Linked DNA regions of Homo sapiens. The protein of the gene in region 1 purifies or fractionates together with the protein of each later gene. This does not show direct contact. Each region holds a gene or a part of one and is shown in the gene's direction. Other genes may lie near its edges.

Region 1 (3,500 bases):
CAGCTACTCTTGATACCTGGGTCTCAAGTCATGTCTTCCTAATTAGTAGCCAGGTATCTGAGGCCACCATGGGTGTTATATCATTTTGGTCTTCACCCAAGTTCTGTTCTCTTCACTAATCAAGAAGATTGACTGCCCTCTCCAGGGTAGTCATTTGTAGCTCCACTTATCCCTCTTTTTAAGCATTTTCCCTGTCCCTGGTGGCTGGGTGCCTGTGTCCTGCTTATGATACCAGGAACAGATGACTCTTCTGTTCTTCCTGCTTCCTTGGGTGGAAACTGCAAAGGATGCCTTCCAAAATCAGCTTATTATTTTTGTGGACCCAAGATCTGTAGACAGCTAGCCAGTGCCCATCTCATGGAGAGAGGGTATTCTAAGCCAGATATGATCCAATCCCATGACTTGATCTGTACCCTGCAGGGCATGGCCTTTCTCCACAACAGCATTATTTCATCGCATGGGAGTCTCAAGTCCTCCAACTGTGTGGTGGATAGTCGTTTTGTGCTCAAAATCACAGACTATGGCCTGGCCAGCTTCCGATCAACTGCTGAACCTGATGACAGCCATGCCCTCTATGCCAGTGAGGCCCACCCCCACAACCCACTTTTTATATTGCTCCTCTTTCCACCTAGGGATGGTGGGAGAGGGAGGTGGAGTGACAGTAATATAGGGATGAGCCCAGGTGGGCTTGGGGGTGCCCCATTTCGGGGGACCTGGCCAGCCGGTTTCCTCTTTTCAGAGAAGCTGTGGACTGCCCCAGAACTGCTCAGTGGGAACCCCTTGCCAACCACAGGCATGCAGAAGGCTGACGTCTATAGCTTTGGGATCATCCTGCAGGAGATAGCACTTCGCAGTGGTCCTTTCTACTTGGAGGGCCTGGACCTCAGCCCCAAAGGTAAGAGTCAATCCACTACCCACAGCCTCTTCTTCCTGGGGGAACTCTGTTCTTCATCCAAACCTTTGATCACCCTCAGAGATTGTCCAGAAGGTACGAAATGGTCAGCGGCCATATTTCCGGCCAAGCATTGACCGGACCCAACTGAATGAAGAGCTAGTTTTGCTGATGGAGCGATGTTGGGCTCAGGACCCAGCTGAGCGGCCAGACTTTGGACAGATTAAGGGCTTCATTCGGCGCTTTAACAAGTGAGAGGGCATTATGGGGCAGGGGCTTCCCAGGGATAGAAGACTCATTAGTCCTAGTGCATGAAGTGGGGCAGGTGGGACCAGAGGGTGGGTTGGATAGGAAGTCCTGGGAATCTTCAGAATCTTAGAGCAAGTGCCTTATCCTGGCCTCCCTCTAGGGAGGGTGGCACCAGCATATTGGACAACCTCCTGCTGCGCATGGAACAGTATGCCAATAACTTGGAGAAGCTGGTGGAGGAACGCACACAGGCCTATCTGGAGGAAAAACGCAAGGCTGAAGCTCTGCTCTACCAAATCCTACCCCAGTGAGACTTTGTCCCCCTTCCTGTATTTTCTTTTGGGATTCTGCTCTGTTGGGCTCTGCCTCATCAGGCACCTGAGAACTCGCCTCCCCACCCTCAGAACCCTGCTGGCCACAGGGAGCACCCCTGCTTATAGATTATTTGCTGTCATTCTGTCTCCACATCAGCTATGCTGCCTTCTTACTGGCTGCCCATCCCTTCTTCTTAAGACCCTGCTCTACCACACCCTTGCTTCAGCAAGTGTATGTAAAACAGTCCCAACTTGAGACAGCTCCCATGCACAGGGATTCCCCTCAAACCCCCCCGCCACTTGTGTGCCTTACCTTGCATTAGACTGTAATGTCTTCCCAGCCACTTTCCTCCCTCCCACCTGAAAAGCCTAGCTTTCTTGTTACAGCTCATCTCTGCTGCAGCCACATACACTTTCCCTCTCTCTTCCACTCCTGCTCTCTTGGAGTTTGGCTCATACGGCACCCTTGCTTCCTAGTTCAGTGGCAGAGCAGTTAAAACGGGGAGAGACTGTACAGGCTGAGGCCTTTGACAGTGTTACCATCTACTTCAGTGACATTGTTGGCTTCACAGCATTGTCAGCAGAGAGCACCCCCATGCAGGTGAGAGCCATGGGTGAGAGGTGGCGGGTGGGGTTGGGTGGGTAGGGACCTGGGGAAGCCTCATTGATAATAGGAAAGATGAGTTTGTTCTAGAGTTCCCACATCTTTTGATGGCTTGTGGGTTAAGAATTCTTAGAAAATTGGGCACAAGTCTCAGGGCCTCTGCTTTTCTATCCCTTTTAGGTAGTGACACTTCTTAATGACCTGTATACCTGCTTTGATGCCATAATTGACAACTTTGATGTCTACAAGGTGAGAGCTGGGGCCGCTGTTCAATAGAAGACCCTTTAATAGAGACCCGCTTTGAAACTCAGTCTCCCTGAACCCCACACACCTTACCCACCCCATGATCAGTTTTCCCTCCAGGGTACTCAGCATCCTGGTGCTGGAGTGTACTTCGTAGACAGATGTAGCTCCAGCACTATAATTGTACACTCCAGTCGAATTTCTTGTGAATCCTTTGACTTCCCTAATCAGAACCATCATGAGATTTAGCTCCTATCTTCCTGGAGTATAAATACAGCCTATCCAACATTTCTCTCCAGTCCTCTCCAGACATGGAAGAATCATATAGGATGTGGGTCCAGACTGATTTAGTGGGGTGAGGGAAAATATATTTTAAAAAGTAAAACTTTTTGTTGAAGTTATTGAGTTGGATTTATTGTCCTTGGGAGTAAAAATCATCTGGATTTGAATATTGGCTTGTTGCTAACTGTGTGGCCTTAGGTAAGTCACAGAATCTCCCTGAGCCTCAGTTGTTTTATCTGTAAGATGGGAATAATAGATTCGTTGTATGGAAAGTACCTAACATTGTTTGGCATGTGGCAGACTACTATTTAGGGATAACTACTTTATCCCTAAATACTTAGTGTGTATTTCCTAAAAACTTCACTGTGTATTTCCTTAAAACAATGGCATTTATTCTCTTACATAGCTTTGGCACAATTACCAAAATCAAATGCCTGCTTTCCTCCTCTCTGACAGTTTGGGCTGTCAGGTCCATTTCACTGGGCCTGCTTTACCTCCTCACCAGCCTCTGTCCTCTTGAGTTACCGTTTTCTTGCTTCCCATTTCCTGATGGCAGAGCCTATTTGTCCATGTCCTGCTGCAGACAGGGTGTTCATTCATTCCGCAAATGTTTACTGAGTATTCACCAGGTGCTGGGTGGAGAAAGAAGACTTAAAGATTCCCTAGACATCTCCTCTCCCCTAGACTCAGGACCATGGCACTTATTTTCTAGTCAATATTCTGGTCTCCAGCATGTCAGGATGATTAATGATGGTGTCAAGCTTGTCTCCCTCTACTTTTTCCCATCCCCATGGATATAAATAGAGGTGACCTTTTAATCCCCCTCTCAATCAGGTGGAGACGATTGGGGATGCTTACATGGTGGTATCTGGCCTCCCAGGCCGAAATGGTCAACGCCATGCACCAGAAATTGCTC
Region 2 (3,500 bases), on another chromosome or scaffold:
ATAATGTCAGATGGCAATATAAAAGGATAAATAGAGTGGGGGTAAAGGGATGTGGAGTGTGGAGGCGACAGTATAGAATTGCCATCGAAAGCCTTACTGAGAAGGAGAGATTTGATAAAAGACCTGAAGGAAGTGAGAGATTGAGCTATAATATATCTGGGGGAAGAACATCCCAGAAAAGGATCCTTGGCGGGAGTGAACTGGATCATGCAAGGAGGCCAGCGTGGTACCAGGGGAGTGATAAGAGGCAGAACAGCAGGAAACGAAGTCAAAGAGGCTGTGGGGACAAGGACATGGGGGGGCCTTAGAGGTCATGCTAAGGACTTTGTTTGGCCTTTTACTCTGAGAAGTCACTGGAGGGTCTGGAGCAGAGGAGTGCCATCTGGCTTAGGTTTCAACAGATCACTCTGCAACTGCGGAGTGAAAGGCATGAGATTAGAAGCAGAGACCATTCAGGAGGCTTTTGCCATAGTCCAGGCAGCTGATGATGGTGGCTTGGAGCCAGGTAGGGAGAGTGAAGTGGTGAGAAATGCATACATTCTGGATATTTTTAAAAGATGGATCTGGCAAGATTTGTCAATGGATTGGCGGTATGTGTAAGAGAAAGAAGAGTCAAGAATGATTTGAAGATTTATGACCTGAGTAACTGGCAGGATGGAATTGCCTTTAACTGAGAGGGGGAAGAGTATGGGAGAAGGAGGTTTCAGAGAGGAACCCCAGGAGCTCTGTTTTGGACCTGTTAAATTGAGACATCTATCACATATCCAGGAGGACAAGGGAGGAGAGGTGTCGGGGGAAGCCGTAGACTTGAGAGTCATCAGCATGTAAACGGTATGCGTTCAAAGCCAAGAGGCTGGATAAGTGAGTGTAGACAGAAAACTGAAGAGTCCAATGCTGAGCCCTGGGCACGCTTGTGTTTAGAAGTTGGAGGGTTGCATAGCAGCATAGGTGCCTGAGAGGAATGTACAGAAAGTAGGAAGAAAACTGGACAATTGTGGTTTTTTGGACGCCAACTGAAAAAAGGGTTGCAAAGACAGTCTGTGTCAAATGCTGCTATTAGGTCAAGTTAATTGAAGACTGAGATTTGACCATTGGATTTATAATGTAGAAGTTACTGGCAATGATTTGAAAAGCAGTTTTAGTGGAATGCTGGGGGTAAAAGGTTGATGGAATTGGTTCAAGAAAAAATGAGAGGAGAGGAATTGGGGACAGCATGTACAGACAAATCTCTCAAGTGTCTCACTATAAAGGGAAGGAGAGGAATGGGTCATTTATGAAGAGTGTGGCTGGGTGAGACAGGGTGTTCTTAAAGCATCAGAAGCAAAAGCTGATGAGTCAATGAGTGGACAATCACATTTTAGCAGGACCACTCTGGCCGCTGTGTTGAGAAAAGACTAAAGGAATAGCCTCTTAATTTGAGCTATCAGTGGTGGCCAAATTCATGCTTTTTCGTGTGCCACCTTGCAGATACCAGACCCATGCATGGATGGGTCAGCAAGAAGCCAGGTCATTAGGATGAGAAACAGCTAGAGTTTGCAAAGGCTTGGAGTAAGATAGTAGAGACAAGTGTGGGAACATCACTGTTGGCTCTTTGCCAGGAATTCATATCACAGAATTGGCCCTACTGCCTTAGGAACAAAAAGTGGTGTGAGGAAAGTGTCATGAACCTCTCTTTCAAGTGAAGTATTAACCCTTGTTTTTCATATAACCACGAAGTGGAAAGTTCACCATTTATTCTCAGGAGGTGGAGAGGAGGGTGAGTCGGATGGAGTAGTTAACCTAGTCCTACCCTAGATTGGGAAGGAAAAAAATCATGTCAACTTTCAGCTCTCTTGTTCCATTCCATTCATTAAAGGTTAGGTTAAGGGGGGTTACTTTATTCTGACGCATTCCATTTGCAATTCCCCTGGGCAATTGTTCTACCCCTTTACAATAGTAGTCTCTAAGTAGCTCAGTGTCTAGACAGGACAGAGTGTGGTAGCTTGGCGGTGGTGGAAACTCGTTTGGAAGGCTTCTTTTGACTTTCTTAACCATCTAGCCTCATTGGAGCTTTGCTCTGTATAAAGCTTTATTCTGACTTCTTCCCAGAAAAGGATGCTTTTGGGAAGACAACGGGCTCCACTTTTCCCATCTTACTGTAGTGCCTATGCCCATGAAACTTACATGTGAATAAAACTTCAGGAGAGTTTGGATATTTCTGGGATGAGATGGGGATCTCTGATGTTTCTTGTAAGAGGCTCAGGGTGAGAAAATCCCCTGGGGATGGGTCATAGGGCAGAAGATGAGGTTGGGGGAAATTAGTGGAAATAACTTGAGGAAGCTAAATTTTGTTCAAAGGGAAATGTGAATAAGCAGAGCTACTTAAAGCATATTGCCATGAAAAACATAGATGCCGCATTATTAAGGAAATGTTTGGAAATGCTGTTGGATCATGAGGATTCTCAGATTTTACCCACAGCCTGCCTCTCCCCAACTCTGCCGCCACCTGCCTTCTCTGAAGGCTGTAACCCTCCCATGCTTCACATTATTGCTGCTTTTTGATTATCTCCCTGGGGGTACTTAGAAGGGCAGAGGGAAGGGGGACTGGGCTGGGTTGAGGGCACGCTTTCCTCCACCTCTGGGAGTCAGTCCACCATTTGCAGTGTGAAAGCTGTCCTTAGGAGAACACCTTCCTAATACACAGATTTGAAAAATGTCAATCAACATGATTCAATTCTAAACCGAAGACTTAAATATAGCATTGGTGTATAATTTTAGAATTTGCTTTTGCTATGCAGGCAGTTGATAAAGTACAGTGTAGGGAACTGTTATTTATCTGTACAATGTTTCTTCACAGTCCATGCCTAGATAGTTGAGATTTAATTGTTTCATGTTAGTTGTACCTCAGTACATGTGGTGTTTGGTATTTGTCCTTACATCTTTTTTTTTTTTTGAGACGGAGTCTTGCTCTGTCACCCAGGCTGCAGTGCTGTGGCGCGATCTTGGCTCACTGCAAGCTCCACCTGCCGGGTTCACGCCATTCTCCTGCCTCAGCCTCCCGAGTAGCTGGGACTACAGGCGCCTGCCACCACACCCGGCTAATTTTTTTTTTTTTTTTTTTTGTATTTTTAGTAGAGACGGGGTTTCACTGTCTTAGCCAGGATGGTTTTGATCTCCTGACCTCGTGATCTGCCCGCCTCGGCCTCCCAAAGTGCTGGGATTACAGGCGTGAGCCACTGCGCCTGGCCCTTATGTCTTTTTTTATGCCTCATTTCTACTATATTAAAAGGCAAAGTATACAATTTCTATTTCTTTGGCACTTAAGGTTAGACACATTAGTTTTTCAGAGTGCTGAATACACATTGTTAACCTCTAGGCAATAGTATATGTAGGATGAAAGTATGAATTATGCAGAGTAAATTGTTAATCTGATTTCTTCACTTTGGAAAAAGTGCTACATATACATAATTTAATTAGAATAAAGCTTTGCATTTAAACACATTTAATATTTAAGCTCTAAT
Region 3 (3,500 bases), on another chromosome or scaffold:
AGCAATTCTTTTGCTTCAGCCTCTTGAGTAGCTGGGATTACAGGCGCCTGCCACCATGCCCAGCTAATTTTTGTATTTTTTAGTAGAGATGAAGTTTCGCCACGTTGATCAGGCTGGTCTCAAACTCTTGACCTCAAGTGATCTGGCTGCCTCGGCCTCCCAAAGTGCTGGGATTACAGGCATGAGCCACTGTGTCTGGCCTCTCTCCACAGTTTGGTTTCCCCATCTATCAAATGAGAATCATAATTTCTACTTCCCTACCACATCGGGTTTTGGAGAGGCTAAAATGAGGTCAGGAAGGAGAAACTGCTTAGAGAACGTCCAACACTTTTAAAACGAGAGGGATTTGTTTTGTGGCTAAGCTGTGTCCAGGGCTGCAGGTCAAGCCTCCATGTTTTTGTCTAGTGGGGCAGTAACACCAGGCTCAGTAGCATCAACTGTACACTGTGTTCCCTTCAGGGTGTGGTGGAGGCTCTGAGGACTGTTCACACCCAGACACGTCACACTGTGCTTTCCATCACCTCTTGGCCATCTCACTTATTTATCCCTTTTCTTTCTTAATTTTTTTTTTTTTTTTTTTTTCAGACAGGGTCTTGCTCTGTCGCCCAGGCTGGAGTGCAGTGGCGTGATCATGGCTCACTGCAGCCTCTCGAACTTCTGGGCTCAGTTGATTCTCCCACCTCAGCCTCCTGAGTAGCTGGGATTACAGGCAGATGCCACCATGCATGGCTAAATTTTTTTTTGTAGAGATGGGGTTTCACCATGTTGCCCAGGCTGGTCTTGAACTCCCGGGATCAAGTGATCCATCTGCCTTGGACTCCCAAAGTGTTGGGATTACAGGCGTGAGCCACCACACCCGGCCTCTTTATCCTTCTCACATAGCACTTGCCTCTCCTTTGGGGGAGAGCTGAGGATAGCGGGTGAGCTAGGTTCAGGTCTCACTCATGGCTCATGGCTCATGGCTTGAGCGTCTCCTTGCAGACATTGTGTCCTGTGTGATTCATCCCTGGAGGAAACTCTGGAAACTCTGCCTAGCTGCTCCTCCTTTATAATTTAATTATTTTTGGTCATTGGTCATTTTATAAAAAAAGGTCAAGAAACAGGATTTTGTCACTCCTCTTCTTTTTATTACAGCCTGACTTTTTCTGAAATATTGCTTAGAGCCCTTCCTGGTTGTGACTTGCTCTCCCGCTGGTGCCTGCCAGATTGCAAGTTTCTTGTCTGTGGCAGACACAGTTGCTAGACCCTGTGGTTCTTGGAAGTGTCGACACCTTTGTTCACAGTTTGGTGACGCATAGGCTGCTCTGGAGTTGTTTGACCTTTAGGCCCAGAGAGGAAATCTCTGCCTCTGGCTGGTTGTCCAGTTCTCGTCTTGAACCAGAAGGCACTTGGGTGCCACTTGGGTGGGGCGGGCAGAGAACTGGACTGGGGCTGGGGTGGGCACAGGGGAGGCGTTCCCATCCCAGCTCTGTTTGACTCTCTCTGTGTGACCTGTGGCTGAATTACTTCTTTACAGGCATGGTTTTCCCTACCTATAAATCGAGGGTCATACTATATCCGTGGTTTAGTGGTTTATATCCTATTTTGCTTCCCTTTAAAAATAATTTAGCCCCTATACTCTTTATTTAAAGCAGAGATCTTTATTTAAAGTCTATGAATGGCTTTGTTTATTATTATTATTATTTTGAGACAGGGTCTCGCTCTGTCACCCAGGCTGGAGTGCAGTGGTGCAATCTCAGCTCACTGCAGCCCACGCCTCTTGGGTTCAAACGATTCTCGTGCCTCAGTCTCCCAGATAGCCAGAATTACAGGCGTGCACCACCACGCTTGCCTAATTTTTGTATTTTTAGTAGAAATAGGGTTTCACCATGTTGGCCAGGCTGGTCTCGAACTCCTGGCCTCAAGTGATCTGCCTGCCTTGGCCACCCAGAGTGCTGGGATTATAGGCGTGAGCCAAAAGTCTATGAATGGCTTTGAACGGGGCTTACTCTTGTCATTGTGCCACAAGCCCCACCACTTTCTGTGGCTTAAACCCTGCCTGCATCACAATAAGTTACCTGCCTGGGCTTTGAAGGCGTAGTGTAAAATAAATAAAAATAGGTAAAGCTCTCTAGCTAAAGCGAGTGTGTGTGGAGCACAGCCTGCTCCCTGCCCCCTCATGATGAGCAGGAACCCAAGGTTATGCAGAGCAGTGTTTGACAGCATCTGGGCTGGGTGGCTGCTCAGGGCCCTCCAGTTATGACATTTATCTTTCTCTGGCTCAGACTCTAGCAGGATACCCAGGAGAAAGAGGGAAGTGCTGGCTAAGGTCCCAGGCTTTGGGCGTGTATCAGAACTATCCCTATCCCCCTGCTCCTGTCCGGGATCATAATTTGTCGATTGTTCAGCCTTTCAGACCCCCACTGGCATGCCATATGGAACAGTGAACTTACTTCATGGCGTGAACCCAGGAGAGACCCCTGTCACCTGTACGGCAGGGATTGGGACCTTCATTGTTGAATTTGCCACCCTGAGCAGCCTCACTGGTGACCCGGTGTTCGAAGATGTGGCCAGAGTGGCTTTGATGCGCCTCTGGGAGAGCCGGTCAGATATCGGGCTGGTAGGTTCGCTGCTGCCCTTCCTGTTTGAGTCCCTGCTTACGAGGCCCAGGGCTCTGAGCAATAAGTTGCAGTCAAGCCAAGGAAAACTTAGGGTGACCTTGGGAGTGGTCCAGGATTTGGGCTCAGGACACCAAAAATAGACCAAGCCTCCAATTCAAGTTTGGCTTGGAGTGGGGAGGAGAGTGGGAAAGCACGTTTCTGGCAGGCAGCAGGGGCTGCATTCAGCTTTGACCAGTTGAGATTCTCTGATTTCTAGGAAGAGGGTCGTATGTTTCATGCCCCTGACTCACTTGACGGCTTCAGATCATCAGCTCGTCCGGCCTTCATTTTTAGCGTCTATCTGTATTTGCTGTGTTTCTTAGGACACCGGTTCTGAGAGATACTGAGTGGCAGTTGCATGAAAAAATGAGTCTTGGCCAATTAAGTTAGGGGAATATTAGATATAATATCCCCCCCTTTTTTGGAGAGTCAGAATGCACATGAGCAGAATAAAAATCCTCTAGTAAAGAAATCTATTCAACTTTGTTTAATTTAACATTTCCCAAACTTATTTAACACCAGAGCTTCCCTTTATCTTCCAGTACTATTAACCCATGGAAATTGAACACACTTTGGACCAGATGATCTCTAAGGTCAGTTTCAGCTTCTAAATGGGATAATCAATAAGATTAACAGTAATTGAGCCAAAGCCATCCAGGACATAACACTGGATTTAGTCAGAACTGGATTCAAGCCCTGGCCTTGCTACATCGAAACTGTGTGACCCTGAGCAAGTCACTCAACCTCTCTGGTCCTCAGTTACTTCAGCAGTAACGTTAATATATTAATACCAACTTTGCTGAGTCACTCTGACTTAGGAAGACTGCATTTAGGTCTAGGCACATTTTATGCAGTCTGGTG
Region 4 (3,500 bases), on another chromosome or scaffold:
GGGTTCAAGTGATGCTCATGCCTCAGCTTCCCAAGTAGCTGGGGTGACAGGCATGTACCACCACGCCCGGCTAATTTTTTGTATTTTTAGTAAAGACAGGGTCTCACTCTGTTGCTCAGGCTGGTCTCGAACTCTTGGCCTCAACCAGTCCTCCTGCCTTGGTCTCCTAAAGTGCAGGGATCACAGGCATGAGCCACCACACCCGGCTTCGAGTTTTTGAGCTAGGGAGGGGCAGAGGGAGCGAGAGGAAGACAGTGGTGCTGGCAGGCGAGTCTGCGCCTTACAGGTCGAGGCAGTCGTGGGGAAGGGCCTGGCAGGATTGACCTGGCCGCCTCCCAGCAAAGGCAAAGGAGCCCTGGAAGGAACCACAGAGCCCAGGAAGCACTGTGCCAGGATGGGGCAGGGGTGAGAGTAGAGAAGGCACAGTGGCTCCTGCCGGCTTTAATCCTTGACCACAAGGGGGAGAAATGCCAGGGCCATCCCCACAGACGCAGCAGCGTGGTCCCCGAGTCAGGTCTGGAGAGGAGGCCTTGAGGCCCAGACAGGGCTAGGGCAGAGAAGGCTGTGTGCATGCGGAGACTGCTGGGCCCCTGGAGGCCAGCACAGAGGAGAGGTGAGGCCAAGCCAGGCAGGACATGGGGACGCCTGCATCAGCCTGGGACAGTCCACCTCAAGGGTCAGAAAAAAAGGGCTGGGCAGGTGGCAGAACTTCCAGGTTTAGGTTTAGAGAAGAGAGACCTGAATGCCGTAGACAGAGCTGGACTCCATCCTTGGGTGATAAGGGATCCCCGAAGTTTCCAAAGGAGATGGGTGGGGAGGGGTTCCATGCAGCATTTTGCAAAGAGTCCCCTGCAGGGTCAGCCAGGGTCACAAGCAGAGGCGGGAGGAGCCAAGGGGTTTGGCTCAGCAGGGGGACCCTGGGGGCCGATAGCAGCCGTGCACCATTCCCTCCTGAGACTCTGTGCTTAGGGGCTGGTCCTGATGAAGGATGAGCAGGGCCCTGGGCTGCAGGGTGGCAGTGAGGAACAAGGAAAGGCCAGGCGAGGGCTGCTGCCCGCTGACTCCACCACCTCTCCAGGGAGGAGCGGGGCCGTGGGCTGGGCCATCCCGCCTGGTCCAGGTCACTGAACGGCCACTCTGGTTTCCTTCCATGCCCAGGGAGCCCTCGTGTGGGCAAGATTGTTATGACTGCTGCCGCCAAGCACCTGACACCTGTCACCCTGGAGCTGGGGGGCAAGAACCCTTGCTACGTGGACGACAACTGCGACCCCCAGACCGTGGCCAACCGCGTGGCCTGGTTCCGCTACTTCAACGCCGGCCAGACCTGCGTGGCCCCCGACTACGTCCTATGCAGCCCTGAGATGCAGGAGAGGCTGCTGCCTGCCCTGCAGAGCACCATCACCCGTTTCTATGGCGACGACCCCCAGAGCTCCCCAAACCTGGGCCGCATCATCAACCAGAAACAGTTCCAGCGGCTGCGGGCATTGCTGGGCTGCGGCCGTGTGGCCATTGGGGGCCAGAGCGATGAGAGCGATCGCTACATCGGTGAGTCCTGCTGCCCCTACCACAGCCCACCTGGGCCAAGACCCCTCCTCACTGGAGGGCCCAAGGCTGGGCCACAACTCTGGACCCGCGCCTGAAACCTGGCCCCACTGCCAGAGCCCGGCCTTGAGCCACAGCTCCAGTGCCATGATTCCGTCTCTGTGCTTCTAAGTCTGTGGCCCTATGAGGCCAAACTCTGGTCCCTCACCTTGGATTCGCTGAGCTCAGATCCCAGGGCTCCAGGGCTCAGCGTGCTAAGATGAACTCCCATCCCACCACTGGCTATCCTGAAAGGCTGTAACCTCAGATTCTCCGAGCCCACAATCCCCAGGTTCTAAACTCCGAGAGTCCCGTCCTGAGCCCCCAGTCTCCTGGGCCGTACGGCTCAGCAGCTCATGGGACACTGCGGCGCCAACATTCTGGGACGCTGTTGCCTCATGAACTCCAAGGGTTCTAAGATCCCATCACCCCTGACTGTGAGACCAAGGTCGGGGGATTCTCTGTGTCCCACAGGCCCTGAGCAGGCTGGGGAAGCTCTAGAGTCCCTTCTGGGGGGCTGTGGGGAGACTTTCTTCCCTAAACACTCCAAAGCCTGAAGCCTTGGGAAGTCAGACCTTGGGATCCTGGCCTAGAGCCCTGGCCTGTGGCCCTGTCCCCACCTCTACCCCCACCCTGGGGGCGGTCCTGACTGTGGCCCCAGGGCTGAGCTGTCTCTGGTGCCTGCAGCCCCCACGGTGCTGGTGGATGTGCAGGAGATGGAGCCTGTGATGCAGGAGGAGATCTTCGGGCCCATCCTGCCCATCGTGAACGTGCAGAGCTTGGACGAGGCCATCGAGTTCATCAACCGGCGGGAGAAGCCCCTGGCCCTGTACGCCTTCTCCAACAGCAGCCAGGTGGGGGTGCGGCCGGGCTGGGCAGGGTCAGGAGCCCGCAGTGGGCAGCACAAGTGGTGGCAGCAGGGGGGGCACCAAAATCCAGTGGCTTCAGGACTTTGGGATGGTGGACCTCTTGGCTCTGTCTCTGCCCACTCTCCTGGAAGCAGCTGAGCCTCACCCACCCCAACCCTGTCCCCAGTCTGGGCCCCACTCTCCTAGGCCTTCAGTGGGCAGCTTCCTGGGGTATGGGCCTTCTCTAGGGTCCAGTGTTTCCTCTAGGTCAGCCCCTGCCTTTGTCCTTCTTACACATCGGGGCCTGGTGGCCACATGACCCCTCAAGCCTGGCTCTGAAGGCACAGGCAACGTGTCGGGGATGACCCAAAGGTGCAGGTCCAAGAATGAGCCCTGATCCCCTACCCCTGCTTAAGCTGCAGAGGCAGCCTGGGAGGCCCAAGGCCAGAGTCCTCAGATTAAAAAACACCAAGAGGTACCAGCAGTCCCTACCCACCCCGCCCCCTTCCCCGGCCCTCAGCCAGTTCCTCGATTCCCTCCACTTGAACTTTTTTTTTTTTTTTTTTGAGACAGAGTCTCACTCTGTCACCCAGGCTGGAGTGCAGTAGCACAGTCTTGGCTCACTGCAACCTCTGCCTCCCGGGTTCAAGCGATTCTCCTGCCTCAACCTCCTGTGTAGCTGGGATTACAGGCGTGTGCCACTATGCCCGGCTAATTCTTTGTATTTTTAGTAGAGATGGGGTTTTGCCACATTGGTCAGGCTAGTCTTGAACTGCTGACCTCAGGTGATCCACCTGCCTCGGCCTCCCAAAGTGCTGGGATTACAGGGATGAGCCACCGTGCCCGGCCACTTGAACTTTTTTTAAATAAACTTTGTATTGGGAAATACTTTTAGATTTACAGAAAAGTTGCCAAAATGGTACAGAGAGTTCCCATGTACCCCACACCTAATTTCCCCCATTTAATGGTGCTTAGATGGGTCAAAACTAAAAAAGTGATGGCAGGGCTGGGCGCGGTGGCTCACACCTGTAATCTCAGCACTTTGGGAGGCCAAGGTGGGAGGATTGCTTG

What was found.
Region 2: the proteins of NPR2 (region 1) and MRAP2 purify together in Homo sapiens (co-immunoprecipitation; one large-scale study listed by IntAct). This does not show direct contact.
Region 3: the proteins of NPR2 (region 1) and EDEM2 purify together in Homo sapiens (co-immunoprecipitation; one large-scale study listed by IntAct). This does not show direct contact.
Region 4: the proteins of NPR2 (region 1) and ALDH3B1 purify together in Homo sapiens (co-immunoprecipitation; one large-scale study listed by IntAct). This does not show direct contact.

The regions. Positions count from the first base shown.
Region 1 is NC_000009.12:35,805,091-35,808,590, forward strand, and holds part of NPR2 (atrial natriuretic peptide receptor 2 isoform 1 precursor), read left to right. Parts: intron 1-420; coding exon 421-580; intron 581-739; coding exon 740-895; intron 896-974; coding exon 975-1,143; intron 1,144-1,301; coding exon 1,302-1,448; intron 1,449-1,932; coding exon 1,933-2,056; intron 2,057-2,239; coding exon 2,240-2,308; intron 2,309-2,694; exon of another isoform or gene 2,695-3,082; coding exon of another isoform or gene 3,083-3,216; intron 3,217-3,418; coding exon 3,419-3,500. Other genes in the region: SPAG8 (sperm-associated antigen 8), read right to left, coding at 3,083-3,216. UniProt on the Homo sapiens protein: Receptor for the C-type natriuretic peptide NPPC/CNP hormone. Has guanylate cyclase activity upon binding of its ligand. May play a role in the regulation of skeletal growth.
Region 2 is NC_000006.12:84,057,772-84,061,271, forward strand, and holds part of MRAP2 (melanocortin-2 receptor accessory protein 2), read left to right. Parts: intron 1-3,500. UniProt on the Homo sapiens protein: Modulator of melanocortin receptor 4 (MC4R), a receptor involved in energy homeostasis. Plays a central role in the control of energy homeostasis and body weight regulation by increasing ligand-sensitivity of MC4R and MC4R-mediated generation of cAMP.
Region 3 is NC_000020.11:35,133,837-35,137,336, reverse strand, and holds part of EDEM2 (ER degradation-enhancing alpha-mannosidase-like protein 2 isoform 1 precursor), read left to right. Parts: intron 1-2,387; coding exon 2,388-2,599; intron 2,600-3,500. Other genes in the region: MMP24-AS1-EDEM2 (ER degradation-enhancing alpha-mannosidase-like protein 2), read left to right, coding at 2,388-2,599. UniProt on the Homo sapiens protein: Involved in the endoplasmic reticulum-associated degradation (ERAD) pathway that targets misfolded glycoproteins for degradation in an N-glycan-dependent manner.
Region 4 is NC_000011.10:68,020,327-68,023,826, forward strand, and holds part of ALDH3B1 (aldehyde dehydrogenase family 3 member B1), read left to right. Parts: intron 1-1,158; coding exon 1,159-1,545; intron 1,546-2,268; coding exon 2,269-2,435; intron 2,436-3,500. UniProt on the Homo sapiens protein: Oxidizes medium and long chain saturated and unsaturated fatty aldehydes generated in the plasma membrane into non-toxic fatty acids. May have a protective role against the cytotoxicity induced by lipid peroxidation.